Regions from separate parts of the Homo sapiens genome. Here region 1 is linked to region 2. A link means that fine-mapping ties the variant in region 2 to the expression of a gene that starts in the linked region. Tissue or cell type: whole blood. Region 2 holds a variant in brackets; the other region holds the start of a gene. All regions are shown on one strand. Distances are between the middles of the regions.

Region 1 (8,467 bases), 88 kb before region 2:
ATTTTATTTTATTTATTTACATTTTTAAGAAGGAGTCTCACTCTGTTGCCCAGGCTGCAGTGCAGTGGCGCAATCTCGGCTCACTGCAAGCTCCGCCTCCCAGGTTCATGCCATTCTCCTGCCTCAGCCTCCTGAGTAGCTGGGACTACAGGCGCTCGCCACCATGGCCAGCTAATTTTTTTGTATTTTTAGTAGAGACGGGGTTTCACTGTGTTAGCCAGGATGGTCCTGCCCTCCTGACCACGTGATCCGTCCATCTCGGCCTCCCAAAGTGCTGGGATTACAGGCGTGAGCCACTGCACCTGGCCAAAATGCATTAAGTTTTTATTAGTTATTAAGCCTCAAGAAAGAGTTTAGGAAACGTGGAGAATTCCCTAGCTTATGTAAGGCCATGTGTTTTTTTTTTCTGGTTTCTTCCTATGTACCTGCCTAACTCCTTTATAAACTTTCCCTTCTACCTACCATCCGCCATCCACAGATCTCCTTTAACTCCCTCCTCACCAATGCAGACTTCAGTACCTGGTTTTTATTCTTATCACATGCCACTGATTTAAATGTCAATGTGAATGGCTTATCTAATACTGCAGTCTGGACTCACAGTTCTTCGTCAAGTCTAATGACCTTTATTTTCCTTTCACTTCTGGTATTCACCTCTACAGCGGCATGCTGGGTGGTTATACTCAGAACCACTCCATCTCAACTCTCACACTCAGTTATCCCACTGTCTGAAAATACACCTCTTTGAAAATATACCTCTTCTGTCCGGAAGTCTCACACTGTGAGGACTTCAGGTTTATTATTCTTTCAATTTATCATCCCTTCCTTTATTTGCCAATGAATCTCACAACCACGCAGGTAAATGCCTTTATAAATTTCTGATCTTCACCTTCAGCTGACTCCTCAACAGTGTTCACCTGTTTTCAGGTGAACATTCCCCAGAAATGCTATCTCAAAATTTGAAAGTCCTACTGCTTTCCACAGTAGACCCCTTCCACTTATACTGGATAATCTCTACTTCACCTATTCTTGCTTTTGTCCCTTCCCTTCACCTACAATCTAGATCCCATTCTCTTGTGCCTCCTCAGGCAAATCACAGTATCTTTTTATTTTTTTCCTGTATCGCTCTGGGTGCGCAAGTCAATAACTGGCATCACTATTTTCCACTTTCCACTCTCACACTCTACACTGTTAGCAGTTTTCCTTATTCTCTCAGCTATGTGTACTTTTCTTTCCTTATGGTCACTATCTACCTTTACTTATGGCTCTCAATAAACATTGCCTGGATTACTGTAAACCTCTGAACCGATTCCTCTGCCTCTCTTCTTGTCTTGCCTGATGCCTACTCTGCTTCCCAATCCATTTTTCATGTTGTCATTTAAGTAATTTTTTCCCAAATGGTCATAGAATACTATTAAACCCAAACTAAAATCCTTCAGTGTCTCTCCATATCCTTATAAAGGAGATAAAAGACACTTCATCTTTTATTAGCCTAATATCAAGCCACTACCAGGCAGTCTCTTGTATTTTGTGTTTCTGCAGTACTGAATTACTGATGTTTTATTTTATTGGCTGCTGCTCTATTCCTGTATATCTCTGGGCTTGTTCTTTCACCTGCAAGGAATACCCTTTTCTAAGTGGGTAAATGTTTTATCCTTAAAAATCCTGCTCAGGCATTACCTCCCCTGTGAACCCTTTCGTGATGTCTCTTCTCCATCCTCCTACCGTTCAACAGAAGTATGCCTTTCCATGTAGTCCTTCTTTTATTCCACGTAAACATTTCTACTACATATACTATCTTCTATTTCATATATAGGCACTATTATTAAGCTAGCGTTCTCTTCTTGCTAATTTTGCATCAGCCTTTCTCATCATATTTCAGTTTTTCTTTGTAACCTCAGTGTGTATCAGCCTTTCTCGTCGTATTTCAGTTTGTCTTTGTATCCTCAGTTTCTAGCACATAAACATAGGTCTTCAAAACCTTTGCTGAGCTGAACTGAGCTGAATGAAACTAAGTCATTATTATAGCTTTTAACACAGGGGTTTCTAACCACTGCCCTCCCCCAGACCCCAGACTGGTACTGGTCATTGGCCTGTTAGGAAACAAGCCACACAGCAGGAGGTGAGTGGCAGGTGAGTGACTGAAGCTTCATCTGCATTTACAGCCCCTCCCCATTGCTGGCATTACTGCCTGAGCTCTGCTGCCTGTCAGATCAACAGTGGCCCATAGGAGTGTGAACCCTATTGTAAACTGCACATGCGAGGGATCTAGGTCGTGTGCTCCTTATAAGAATCTAATGCCTGATGATCTGAGGTGAAACAGTTTCATCCCAAAACCATACCCCGCCCTTCCAGTCATCCACGAAACCAGCCCCTGGTGCTAACAATGTTGGGGACCACTGTTTTAACACATTCCTATAATAATTATGAGCATCTGTGTTGTGTGTTTGTTAGTGTATCCTTCATAAAATGCTTCGTAAATGTTTGAGGAATAAATGAATAAAAGGCGACTATTGGCAGGAGGTTGGCAAGGAAATCATTTGGTAAACATGAGATAATGCTACCTCTTCAGCTTTCTGAGTTGCCAGGCTTTCAGTGGCACCACCCAGATTTAACAATTAATTTACTGAGTTGAAATTGTCTGTTTGCATATCTGCACCCTCACTAAACAGCACATACCATGAGATCAAGTAACCAGTTTGTATGTGTGTGTGTGTAGTTCTAGGTACTGTGAAAGTGGAGTTAAATAAAATATGAAAATATAAGTTTAAATAAAACCTCTACTTATAAGTAGTAAGACACATTATAAATTATTATCCTTCTAACTGGGATATCTATTTCCACTGTTGCTTTTTCTCAATCCATTCTCCAATTCTTTGAGTGGCCAGAGCAGGGCAGGAAGCAGGGATGGGGGGCGGTGACCAAAGTAAATATTTACTTAGAATAAGAAAATCAGTGACAACAAATTACAGATTTTTAAAAAGATGATAAATACCACAAATATTTTAGAAATTCAGTAAAATGATATTTTAAATTAACTACCTGAACCATTGCTATGTTTTTCCTATATTTTTAGTTTTCATTTTTTTATTGCCTCATCATTTGACAGTAATTTTGTAATGCACTTTCCCTGGTGATAATGAATAATGTGGTAGTCTTTTCAAAGCAAAGTTAGTCAACATGTATTTTTTGTTATTGAAAGCTTAAAAAAGTTATTGCAGTTTCACAATTTGTTATTGGTAATAATGCCAATTTTTAGTATTGCTAAATTTGGGGAAACTCATCTTAAGGTTCTTAGGTGAACTCTGTGATTTCAGGGCACTTCAAGTTTTCTCAGGCAGTGACTAACCTTTAAGTTGCTAAAAGTCATTAACCTGTTTGTTGTCAAGTTCTTGTTGTAAAGGTATGAATTCTAGATTATCCTTGTAGATGCCAAAATTTTATGTCATTATCAATAAGATTTTGAAAAGTTTCGATATGTTTATATGGTTCATTTTTCTTCCTCAATTATCAAAAAATCAAGGAGTCTGTCTAGTCTAATTTCTCTCTTCCTCTCAATAAATTACTAATACTGATCTGAATTGGAATTCTTCCAATTTACATTTTTGTCACAATAGTTTCTACTGACTTCATACAGTGATATGCACAAAATAATTTTATTGTAAGATGTATATAAAATTATACATGCTTCATTGTTAAGTATATTCCTGAAGAAGAAAACTTCTGTTGTGACTAGATGGATGAGAACCACATCCTGCACTTAAGATTTTCTACATCTGGTGGTTGGAATATATTGATTCCACTGTGCAGACTTCTGGTGCCTCACCCCAAGGGATGCCCTTTTATCATGACCCATCTCTGACCCTGGACCCTAGGTCTCTGATGCCAGGCGAGTTGTCTCAGTGGATAGTAGGAGTGTTTCTGGAAGCCATTTCTAAACGGAGACAGCTCCAATAACTTGACTATACATGGAAGTGCTTGTGAAACTTCATACCTTCCAAAATGGTAAATCCTGATAGTGCCCCACTTAAAACCGTTCAGTGTTTGCCAGTGCATTTTCAACTGTCCTTTTGGTGCTTGGGGACGTGAGGGACTGCCACCTCCACGTCCCTCAGTACAAGCAGACAGTCCCCCTCTGGGGACACTCAAAGATAATGAAAAATTAGCAAAAGGATTGAAGGTGAAGATTAAAAAGAAATGATTCGGATGGAGTTGCCTTAATTCATTTTGTTCCTTTCAGGATGGCAGTCTGTGTGAAACGCTGTATCCCTGGTCTGAGGTAAACCAGGTCTCAAACATCTTCCTCCCTGCCAACCCGAATCCCGACACCCACTAAATGCACCAAGGGGAAAGCAGCGCCTGCCAGCAGCTCTGACGGGGGACAGGAGTAGGGTGGACTCAGTCGTCAGCACGACGGCGGCCTCCCTCACAGAGGCGGCCTCCCTCACAGACGCTGCCTGGAACCCGCCGCCAAGCCCCCAGCAGGCGGCCCGCCTGGCGCCTCCCAGTCTTCGCACAAGCAGGGCCACGGTCTGGGGCCCCCAAGGCCGTTCACGCGGGCGCGCCCCGTCGAGGGCTAGCCTGTCAGCGCCTCACTCGCGGCCTCCTACCCTAGACGACCGGCTCTGGGTGGCGCCGCTCCAACCCCACGCGCCCAGCTCGCCCGGGAAAGCGCGCGCCACCCTTTTAACGGTTCTACCCCGGCAGGGGTGCGGCTGCTCTCGAGGCTCAGCGCCCGAGGCCACGCCCCGCGCCCGCCCTGGGCCCGCCTCGTGCCCCTCGGAGCCGCCTCCCGCCCCGCCCCCCGCCCCTCGCCCCCCGCCCCTCGCCCCCCGCCGCCGCCACCGCGGTCAGCCAGCGGACCAGCGGCAGGAGCCGTTCCCCGACGGGCAGCAGGGCGCTCGGCCTCCGCGTGTGGGCTGAGCGCGGCGACGCTGCTGCCCCGAAATCCCCGTGGATTTTGAGTCGGTAAGTGGCTAGGGAGGATGAGCGACACTGGGGGACGGAAGTCGGGCCCCGTGGTGTGGAGGAGGCGGGTGGGCGCCGTCTCCCAGGCCCGACCCCGGGAAAGTTGAGGCGAGGAAGAGAAGCTCTGAGGTGGGTCGGGAAATCTCTCAGGGCCCCTTCAGTACCCTGTGGACCCTGAATGGGAGTGGGATGGGAGCGAGAGCGTCGGATGAGGGGAAAGAAAGTGTAGGGGGCCAGGGGAGCCCGACGGAGGGGCAAGTGGCCGAGACCAAAGCCATCGCCAAAAAAGGAGCTAAGTACACAGCTCCCCTTGGCTCTGCCCCAGCACCTGGTGCCAGGCGGTGGGAGGCTTTCAAGACGATTTGCCCCCTCCACCCGGTGGCACAAGGTTTTCATTGCTGGTGTTTTAGTCAAAGCTACGGAAAGGACAGTTACATGACTAAAGTAATCACAGACACCTATTACCTGGACAGCTTTAGCCCATCCGAATGTTAAATTGTGTTTTGTTTTGAGAAATCCCTCAAATAGACCAAAAAAAAAATTAAATTAGTTATAAAGAGAAGGCATGAAATGGAAGATATGTTGGAACTCTCCAAGCTTCTAGTTTTTTGATATTTTCGTTTTAATTTTTCCTTAATAGTGCAACCAGATATATGGAACGTGAAATGTCTTTCACCACTTGAGTCATAGGTGGTTTATTTCTTACTCCCCGATGTTTCCTGTATGTTTCTCTTCATCTATCATTTTGTCAGTGTGAGCAGTTTACTTACAAGCAGTATTGGGTTTCAAGGAATCCTAACTTTGTAATGTTTTGAAGTTGGAAATTGAGATGAAATTTTATCTGGTTATCATATGGGAATTATACACAAGGTAAATTCAAATATGGTCTTTTCATTTCATTATTTCACTTTATATGATCTTATTTCTCAACGGCAGCGGTAGCATCAGTACTTTCCAAAGAAGACTAGAATTTATATTGGAGTTTAAGTATAGTACTCAGCTTCTAAAAACAGTGCATAGTATATTTCATATGCTGTGATCTATGGTTAGTATGGCAGTATACCATGTCTGTAGCGTGAGGAAAGCACAGTACTCCCTAATTTATTTAGTATTCTAAGAAAAATGGTAAATTGAAGAAATGGATATTATTAGCATATACCAATTTATTCTGCATGGCCTTATAAATAAATGTTACTTTTCACATTAATTTTTAAATCTATACACGCAGTGTCCACATGTAATAAATGGACAGTCAGATATCTTTCTTTTATGTAACAAATAGGCAAGTTTTGATATAAAGGTGTGAACTTTGTAGTCAAATCCTAATATCTAGCACTTAGTAGCTATGTGGACTTGGGCATGTCTCTTATTTTTCTGAGCCTCAGGTTTCTTATCTGTGAAGTGGGACTAATAATAATTTTCTTCCACCGTTCATATATGGCTCAAAATTAAATGAAATTATATTTAGTATGTAGTAGGACCTTAAAAAGGCATCTTAATTAAAAAATAAGATTAATAAGATTTTGGCCAAAGTGGTCAATGTATCTGCTTATTATCCCATTGTATTTTAGACAATTCTAGGTTTACTGGTAATATCAGGACTGATAAGGCCTGAAGATTCATACTTAGGTAAATTTTTTAAAAAGAAAAGGAACCTAAGATATAGTTAGTATTGCCAGGTGTAGAATAGCAACTGTAAATAACTAACTGATTTACCAATATTCTATTCATACAACTTGGTCTTTAAAGATGATTTGTTAAGTGTGTGTGATCTTGAAAAAAACTATTCAGCAACCATTTCTCAGTATGTATTAATAGAAAGTTTTTTTGGAGACATTGGATCAAAATATCCTTTAAAAAACATTTATACCACAAAACTATACATTTACATTTTTAAATTTACATTTTACAACCTTATGATAGGCCCACTACTTGCTACCCAATGTTGTAGGCAGAATTCTGTTTATTTTGTAACTGTGCTTTGAATCGTTGATATGATACATGGCTACTCTAGGTAGCACCAGTAGCTTCAAGGGAAACTTTTTGATCTCTACATTCCATGGATGAAGCAGGCATTAGAGTTTAAGACTGAATTTGTTTTGTATAATGACTTTGTAGTGCAGTTAAGTCTTTATTATTTTTAACTAAACTGAGAATTAGGTTTTGGTTTATGGAGTTCTGCCTTAATTATAATCTCGTGACTCAGTTTTACAATAATAATTACTTTTTATAAATACTTAACCTTTTTCATTAATAACATGATGGTGGAATGTACTATGCATTGTAATCCCAAACTTGTCCCCTATAATGTCAGTGTTTCCCTGCAGGCATCGTTTACTTTAAAAAAAAATATTAAACAGAGTACTGAATGACACCATCTTTTCTAATTTCCTTAACTGATGTGGATTTATATACAGGGAGCCATTGCTGTATCTTTCCTACTGTAAATTGAAGGGTAGGTGGCACCAAAAGAGCTTTGATTTTTTGTTTATTTACTTGTGTTGCAAAGTCATATAATGGAGTTCTGTAATCCCCAACTCTTGAAAATCCCTAGTTTGAATACTGTGGATTTGCCTTGCTCAGCGATTGGAAAAGACTTAACAACCTACAACTAAATTTCAGCTGAGCAATGAAAAACAACGAAGTGTGTGCCAAAGTACTCTATCCTATTGTATTCTGATTCACTAGTTTCATATGGGGAACAGGATGGAAAGTTACTACATACTAGTATTAGGGTCTTAACTAAAATAGCTAGGATAAACATCAAATAAAGCAATGTATATTAGGTTGCTTTTTGGTCCTTATTTTAAATATACTCTTCTACATAGAAAATATTAATAACTTTATTTGAAGTATTTTTTCTATTTGTGCTTATAACTTTTTTTTCATCTTGTTATATCCAATTGTATTGCACAAAAAGTACAGAGAGCATTAGTTTTGCCACGTTGAAATACTAGCTAACAGACACATTACAAAGCTGGGTTGGTATTAACTTGAAGTACTTGCTGGGTTATCTCCAAATAGTAACTTTTGGGTGCTTACTTATCATTCCTAATTTTGAGAGGTTGTTTATAAGTTTATAATTTTAACATTTGAATTATACATGTCCAAAGATATTTAAAAAATAGGATAAAGCATTTCTGGGAACTTAAAGGGTTACTAACTCTATCTTATACTTGGTGAAATAGGCACTTAGACTTATGATTTGCTTAATATCATATGGTTACAATTATTTCTGGATAAGCAGGTGCAAAATCAAGTGGAGTTTTATTTTTGACTTTGTCTTGATGGGCATCAAAATTTGGAAATCTTGTGTCCCATACAGGTGTCAGATTTTAGTTGCAATGACGAGGTACTTAGCGTTTATAGAGTTTATTTAATAAATCTATGTTGCAGATACTAGAATACAAAAATAAATAAGGTCTGGTTTTTGTGGCCTCAACTAACTGATAGTCCAATAAGTAGACATGTAATATATTTACTGTGATATATTTTAGAAAAA
Region 2 (8,467 bases):
TTATGTGTGTGTTATACACACATGAAGAGAGACAGAGAGCCCCTTTGCATTAGTAAGTACAACGTAATTCAATTGACTCCTTTTCTACGTATGTAACTTAATAGTAATAATTGTTTGTTCGTTTGTTTTTTTAGAGTCTCACTCTGTCTCCCAGGCTGGAGTGCAGTGGCAGTGGATCTTGGCTCACTGCAACTTCTGCCTCCTGGGTTCAAGCGATTCTCCTACCTCAGCCACCCGAATAGTTGGGACTACAGGCATGTGCCATTGTGCTTGGCTAATTTTTGTATTTTTACTAGAGGCAGGGTTTCACCCTGTTGTCCAGGCTGGTCTCAAACTCCTGACCTCAAGTGATCCACCCTCCTCGGCCTCCCAAAGTGCTGGGATTACAGGTGTGAACCACCACACCCAGCCAGTAGTGATGTTTCATAACAGAACAATCTGAGAAGTTTCAAAAAATAGGCTTTTCTTATTTTTAAGAGAAAGAATAAAATATGTGGATTAGTACCTCTATTATTTATAGAATATTCCTTTGTAAATATAACTGTGCAAAGTACATTAAAGAAGGAAATAAAACATCCTTTTGCAGTATAGATTAAAATGCTTCAACAAATACTTATGTAACATTAACACACACACACACACACACACAAATACAGAGAGTGCAAACGAGGTTTTAGCCAAACACTAAATATAGATAGGGTTTGCTAATGAAGGAACATTCTCATTCCTCCATTAAATGTGTGTAACTACAAGGCTCAAGTTAGTGTGAGAGAGCGATACTATTCAATTAATGACAAGAACAGAGTATACATAGTCTGTTGAAGCGAAAAACAAAATTCAGGGTCAAATGGTCGTACTATACAAATTTCACAGGCAATCAGCAAACCCACTAAAGACATAGAGCTAGAAGGAACCACTGAATACAAATTGCTCATTTTCAAAAGGAAGGCCAGATAAATTAAGGAGACTTGCTGAAGACCACATAGCTCTCCTCGGCTAGACTAGAATACTGGTGTCATTTTCCTGCACCATTTTATCAAAAGATGTTTAAAGCACAAAACACGAAAAGCTTTTCGATTGTTCCCAGGTCTGTGTTAAACATACCTGGAGAGAAACAGTGGGTTCTAGTCTCATGAGGCTACAAGGGTCAAAGGCTCTTGATTATAAAACTGTGCCCTTGAGGGCACCGCTGGAAGGAAAGCTTTTCAAAGCTGAAAACCAGCAATTAAAAAAGGAAAGGAAACATCATCTATTTAAGCTGAGAGTAGCAAAAAGGCAGCATAATTTATAAACACCATTTTTTTTTTTTTTTTAACAGAGAGACTTAAATCATATCAGCCTCAGAAGGTTTTTCTCAAAAAGGTTTAACTGCCTTCAGGAAAAGATTTATCAAAGCCTATGCTGGAATGAATATCTCCAGGCTGCCAGTTGTTTAATTAATAATTTTATATTCATCTTTTATATTTGAGATAGGTTTTCTGTGTTTTATATTAGAGCACTAAAAAATATTAATGTTGAAGGGTAAATTTTTAGATTCTAATTTATAACTTCACTCTGCCTCAGTCTATTTTTTACCACTGAAATAAAAATGTTCAAGTATTTAGACTGATTAAAGTACCTTTATCTTACTGAAAAATCATCAAGAAACTGCTGGAGCAAAACTAATTCAGTTATTATACAAACAACAAAAAGAAATTTCAAGTAGGCACTTTGAGCCCCAGGCTTGGGGTCATATAAAAAAATGACAAAGAGTATAAGAGCGTGATGAAACCCTGACAGGGATCTTGATTATTTCTTACAAAAGCATTCATTTTAATCAGGGGCTTAGATTTTGCTCCTTTGCCATGGCAACAGATAAAGAATCCTGTACCTGGAAGGTTATAGTGATAGTCTTAATTATGCTCCCAAGAGGCATTGTGTTAACAGTTTAGTGATTGGAAGGGAAAGAACTAATTCTACCCAATTCTGAATAATACTTTTCCTACCCTTATAGAGGATAAGATTCTACACTGGGTTATGGGCTTTGCCATTGACTCATACTATGATTTTAGGCAAGTCTACTAACCCCTTTGTGTTTGTTTTCTCAAATATATGAAATGAGAACATGGGGCTCAGTTTCCATCCTGGAACTGGCTAAGTCTGTGTTCACTGGTTCATCTAGAGTTGAAGAAGAAAAGAACCATTTTTCCTCTTTGTTCCATTGGTGAAGCAATTCTGTCATGCCTACTCTACCCTTCTGTTGTTACTTTCTGGCCTCAAAAGTGATCAATGTGGGAAGATTCAGAGTACACAGAATTATGCTTGTTCTGTTGTGTGTAGCTTGACATTTCACATGACCCTTGAATCATCCCATATTGGTATATAAAGACTAAGGTCAGTTGCTCTACTCCCGAACAACTGCCTATTTTACTAATGAAATGAAAATAATTCTAATAAGGAAAATGCAGCAACACTAAGTTTACTCATAGAGAAAGGCAGGGGAAAGGTTCATGCCTTTACAGCACTGTATTAAACACTAAGGTACTCTTCAAGGCTCCCCATTGAGTGCTCATTGTTGTTTTAGTAATGCTTATTATTCTCACTAGTGTATCAGACTGTAGGGAGGAAGGAATGTTTCCTTTCTTCCTACATACTGTGCAGTTAAGGTCCCAGAATATTCTGAAAATAATATTTTCAGAACTATTCTGTTTCAATATTTTCAATAGTTTCAAACTATTATGTTTAGCTTCATGCTGGTATAAGAAACAAGCACCCACCTGAATTATGAGTTTCTTATGACAAAGAAGGAAGCATTGTAAACCTTTCTGAATCAAAGGTATAATAAACACATACAAAAATCAAATGTACTGTACAATATCACACACATGAGGGACAAGATTTGAGCATCAACATATTTTAAACTATGGCAAAGCTAAACCTAGGGAATTGGTTTTTGGTTCATCACTATTTCTTTCTGCACATCTCTCTGTTCCAGAGTTTCTAAACTTGCTCCAGCTCAAATAAATTTTGGGTCCCATCTCTTTACTTTTAGTGAGCTTTTAACTACCCTCTGCTAAGTTATTCAGTAACTAGGACTTTAGATCTTTCTATTCCCAGGGATATTTACTTTTAAAAACTTGTAAAGACTAGACTCTTAAAGACTGAAAAACCTTTGAGAGTAAGAGAAGTGGATCTTTAAAGCTGAATTTTCACAGATTCTTGAATTTTTGCCCATGTTCCTCAAATCACATCCTGGTATACACTATGGCAGTCACCAAGGGACCACAGAGAGAAACTGTTTTAAGTATGCTTAACTACCCATCTCCAGCTGCCACACCTTGGGGATCAGCAGTGTTCATGCTGAAGCCACATCCTCTCCAGTATTCCTTGCCAAGGACTAAGGATGGTGTAAGTCAGGGGGGACTCCTCTTATGAGCAGTCTTTGCCCTCGGGCGTCCCACTGGCATAGCCAAAACTTTGTCAGAGGCTCTCTGCCAGCCCAACTTCCATTTCCTCCTCTTTTCACAGGTGCCAGACCTGCAGGGCAGCCTGAAGGATCTTCCCACTGCTCTTGTTCCCTCTCCCCTTTACCTTCCAAGGGCATTTCTCCCAACATATCTCTTGCACTTGGCTTCTGTTTCTAGAGGATTTGAGCAGACACAGTATTCCATAAATACTTGTGCCACATGAACGAATCTCAGTTGGGATGAGACAAATGAACTATTAGGAAGGTGAAGAGAGAGCTGAGGAAAGTAGATTGTGTACCTACCATGTACCAGGTGCCTGACTGTGAGAGTGACTCAGTGCAGTTGGGCTAAAAGACTAATTGAGATAATGTATGCACTGTGGTCAACATGTATTATGCTCAATAAATAGTAGCTGTCTCTTTCTCAATAAACACTGAATTAAGTGTGAAAAGGACAGATGGGTATGAGATACTGGGCATTATAGAAGATGCAATGAGCCAGGCAAGAGAAGAAGACAGGGGTATTGGAATAGGAAGCACAGTCCAAGCAGCAACTAGGCTTCAAACTCACTTGGAGCTGCTACTTCTGTTGAAGTTTTAGGCCTTCTGGAGACTGTCAGTTCTAGGTGGCCCCAAATATCAAATGTGTTAATTTTTTAGGGTCCTGTGGTTTTACAGATTCCCAAATAGTTAATATGATGTCTAATCTCAGTGAAATGGGACAATATTGATTTAAATACAAAAGTTGTGCTACTCTAAGTCTAAAGACAAGGCTATATTTTAAATTTGGATTTGGGGCACTGAGTGGTGGTAGTGATGGAAGAGGGGAGGTGAGACTTGAGAGAGAGCATTGGGGTGAGCCTTGACTTCCTATCTAAACTTATTCTCATGGGAGCAGCCAGGCTTGGTAGTTCTTTTTTCCACTATCACTCAAAATGCAGCCTGATAGTGAGGTGTGTAATCATGGGCTTTTCTCAACTGTAATTTGATTACAGAGATGTTCTATAGGCAAGGAACAAATTTGA[G/A]GTCATATTACCTCCAAAGAAGATACAGGCTATAAGTAGGAAAGCTACTACAGAAAATGACAGAGGATAAAAAGCTTATAAAGAGATGATAATCTTATTCTGTAGCAATAGTAAAACATAAAAAGGAATTATTCTTTAAATCAAATGATTACTCTCACAGCCATTTAAATCATCTGCCAACAGTGACTTACAGGAGGTAAGTCCTGATTTCTTTTAGTAAATTAAGCCTACAAATGAAGGCATTCTTCATTTATTTCACGCCAATACACTTGCCACAAGCATTATCAGTTGAGTCTCCTAAAGTGTCATTTTTGAAACGTTAATAAGTTCATTTACATTTTCCCCAGACCACTGGGGGTCAATTTTCACTTGTCTATGCATATTATTTGACTGCTCTTTGAAATGCAATAAACTTTTCAAAGAATTGATAGTTTTTTGTTTTACTTTGTTTTTTAAACATAAGATAGTATTACATTTCAGCATTGCTGAAGCATGCAATCTGATAGTCTGAAAAAATAATTAGAACATCCATTTCCATAACATATATAATGACATAGCCATCTTAATTTTTTATTGAAACCATTGAGCCAGATACATTTCAAAGTTCAGAATTTTTCAGGGTCTAGAGAGGTAACACCTAGCATATGTCATGTAATTATATAATACCCACAGCAGGGTCTAGAGCAGTACCCTGTAATGACCATATTGGTAGTTTTGCAGCAAAATTCTTAATATTAAAATAGATTTTGCTACCAAATGGACTTTGGTGCTAAGTTTACCAAACAACAACAACAAAACCAAAACATTCCATTTTCAGAAGCTTTTGGATTTTGGAATCGCAGATAAGTGGTGGACCTATAGTAAATCTGTGCCCCTCAAAGGATCCTCTTAAGGATTGTGGGAACCGAAGAGGAAGAGTTGCCAATAATTTGGCTTGTAATTGAAGAAGAAAATTTTATTGCTGCTTTCTACCTGCTAAATTCTTTTTTTTAATTATTTTTTTTAAATTTTCTTTTTCTCAGCAAAGCAAGGTACTTCTATATAGAAGGAACAATGGAGTGCACACTTGGAGAAGGGAGGGCAAGGGGTTCTTATCCCTGACGCACGTCACCCCTGCTGCTGTGTCGTTCCCCTATTGGCTAGGGTTAGACCTCACAGGCTAAACTAATTCTAATTGGCTAATTTAAAGAGAATGAAGTGGTGAGTGCTTTGGCGGGAGTCAGGGCAGAGCAGGTAGCAGGTAATCAGAATGAGTTAGGGTGGAGCAGGTGATCCGAATGAGTTAGAGTGGAGTAGGTAATCGGAATGAGTCAGGGTGGAGTAGGTAATCAGGATGAGTCAGGGTGGAGTAGATAATCGAAAAAGATTGCTTTACGAGGAAGTTAAGTTTAAAAGTAGAAGGCAGAGAATTGAACATACTGACGTATTAGTTTGTTTGTTTTTTTTGTTTTTGTTTTTGTTTTTGTTTTTTTTTGAGACGGAGTCTCGCTCTGTCGCCCAGGCTGGAGTGCAGTGGCACGATCTCGGTTCACTGCAAGCTCCGCCTCCCGGGTTCCCGCCATTCTTCTGCCTCAGCCTCCTGAGTAGCTGGGACTACAGGCACCCGCCACCACGCCCGGCTAATTTTTTTGTATTTTTAGTAGAGACGGGGTTTCACCATGTTAGCCAGGATGGTCTCGATCTCCTGACCTTGTGATCCGCCTGCCTCGGCCTCCCAAAGTGCTGGGATTACAGGCGTGAACCACCTCGCCCGGCCGACATATTAATTCTTTGAAAAGAAATTTAGAACTCATACCTAACAACTCTTCCTCTTGTATTTCCTTACAGCTTTCTTTTCAAACTTTTTAAACATGTCTTAGCTTAGTTGTTTTGCTTGATTTTCCAAAAGAAGAAGCTTCTCTGGATAAGGTGGAGGATAGCTAAGGGAGGTTTTAGTAAGTGCCGTTTTTATGAACCTCTGCATCGACTTACGGATGCATGGTATGACACAGCACCCGACAAGAATAAGTATACCTATTACGGGTGTGAGGTAAATTCTTAAGACTCATCTGCAGAATGTCTCTTAGGCTGCATAAAATACAGACTTTGCACAAAACTTGGTCTAAAATGAGTAACTTGAAAAAATTATTCTCCTACTGACATCAGCTCGTTGAGCTTTAATTGTGCCTCTGATTTACATGAGAAAACATAAAAGGGAGTAGAAAGTTACAATTAAAGGAAGGAAAACAGTCCCTTTCAGCTACTGCCACAGATCTATTGTACAGAATACTTCTCTATGGAATACTTCCTCTATGGCCACAGGCCAGTTCCACTCAGCACTCCTCTCTTTGAAGAGGCCACAAATCTGACTAATTTTCATTTAACTTCATGGGGCAAGGAAGGGGGCTTCACAGAATTTCCTAATCTGTTTCTCTTTATCAAATACATAATCACTTTTTCTATCTGCTGAAAAATAAACCTGCAACAAAATGATCAAGACAGTAGAAAATGCTGTTATTATATTATTTGATTGGAGAGCAAAGGCTAATTTTTGTTTCCTATTATATTCCTTTTGATTACTAGCACATGGCAACACTCTGAACACAGTAGGTGCTTTTTGTGTCTATTAAACTGGATTTGAGGTGGCACCTGCTCTGTACATACATGCCTTTGGTTTGTTTCTTTTTTGCTTTTCAAAAGATTCCTATGCTTCCTCAGTGTTGAGACTACTTTTTCTGTTTTCTTTCTCTGGGATTCAGAGACACTGAGTTCTGCTCCTGGAGTTATTTATAGTTTTGGTAGCTAGGTCTCACATACCTCCTTTGTGCTTCCAAGAGTGTTGTAGGAGTATATGTTCTGTCACTGCAGATGATCTGTTTTCATCATATTAACAAGGAGATGGCTGACTAGGTGCTGTGCTTCCCTTTTAGTTGTTCCTTTATATTTTTATGAATTAATTTCTGTTTACTTTTGATAATTTTCTTAACAGACATTTGTGCCTCTATGCAATCATATGTGTCTGTTCCCATAAGCAGCAGCTTAGTCAATCACTCAGGGAAATACATGCATCTCTATGCATTCACCAGACTGAAGTTCTCCCAGAAACAAGCCCCTGTGCTTCATTAAACTATTGATTTGGTTGTCATAGATCAGCTGAAATGTATATCCTTAAAATGAAGGGAAGTCTCATGAAGCACTTACACTTATTATCTGTTTATCTAAAAAAATCAGCATGTAAAATTCTGACTTAAGGTTAAAATTTTCTCTGAAGGGTCAACATTCCAAATTTTTACTTAGATTATTAGTTAGCTGCTCTGTTGAATTCTCCCCTCTACCTTATAGAAATAAAATATTTTGGTTGTTGTTGTAAGAAAGAATCCATCATATCCATATAAAGCACCAAGCCACATGTTTAGCAATTGTTTCCAATAACAAAGTATGAAACTTGAGAATGACCTTGGAAGTAGAAAGATAACTAGTCCCATGACTATTATGCCTATATTGTGCCTATTATGGGCCACTTGCAGTACTAGACCCCCTACATGCATTATATCATTTTATCCTCCCAACATCTGACAATGAAAGAAATGAAGGCAAAAAGATTAACTTGGGCATATGCTAGCAAGTAGCAGAGCTAGGAATCATATCAAGTTTTTCCTAAGTATGAAATTGTTATTTCTGGAGACATCTCTCCATTTATCCCACATATTCTGATTTGTATAGTTTGGGGAGTGAGAGGTAGTTTTCCATATTTTAATGTATATAAATGACCTATGCAGAACTCAAAGGCAGAATTAACAAGGAAGTGAAAATAGTTTTATTCTTCTAATATCATGTATTTCCTTATATATTAAGGAAGAATTGGTCTCTGTTTAGCATAACCATTATTAAAAATATTTATGTGAGAAAAAATGTGTCTGGAACTGTTAGAAATATACAATTAAATATGTTATTTGTCCACTTTATATGATATTTATGCTATATGTGTCTATTTCTCCTCCTTGCTTTTTAGGTTATC

The links. PIP is the estimated chance that this variant, and not a neighbour inherited with it, causes the effect.
Region 1: it holds the start of C8orf88, and the variant in region 2 is fine-mapped to the expression of C8orf88 in whole blood (TOPMed, PIP above 0.99).

What each region holds. Positions count from the first base shown.
Region 1 is chr8:90,981,612-90,990,078 of GRCh38, reverse strand. It overlaps C8orf88 (chromosome 8 open reading frame 88), which reads left to right and starts at 4,841. Exons shown (of 6, transcript NM_001190972.2): 1 at 4,841-4,965. RefSeq lists a silencer at 4,658-4,817.
Region 2 is chr8:90,894,082-90,902,548 of GRCh38, reverse strand. The region is part of intron 5 of NECAB1 (N-terminal EF-hand calcium binding protein 1); the gene reads right to left. All of the region lies in intron 1 of LOC105375634 (a long non-coding RNA gene), which reads left to right. Among named protein-coding and RNA genes, the nearest start is that of C8orf88, 87 kb to the left of the region's middle. The variant G/A (reference allele first, on the strand shown) is at 4,471.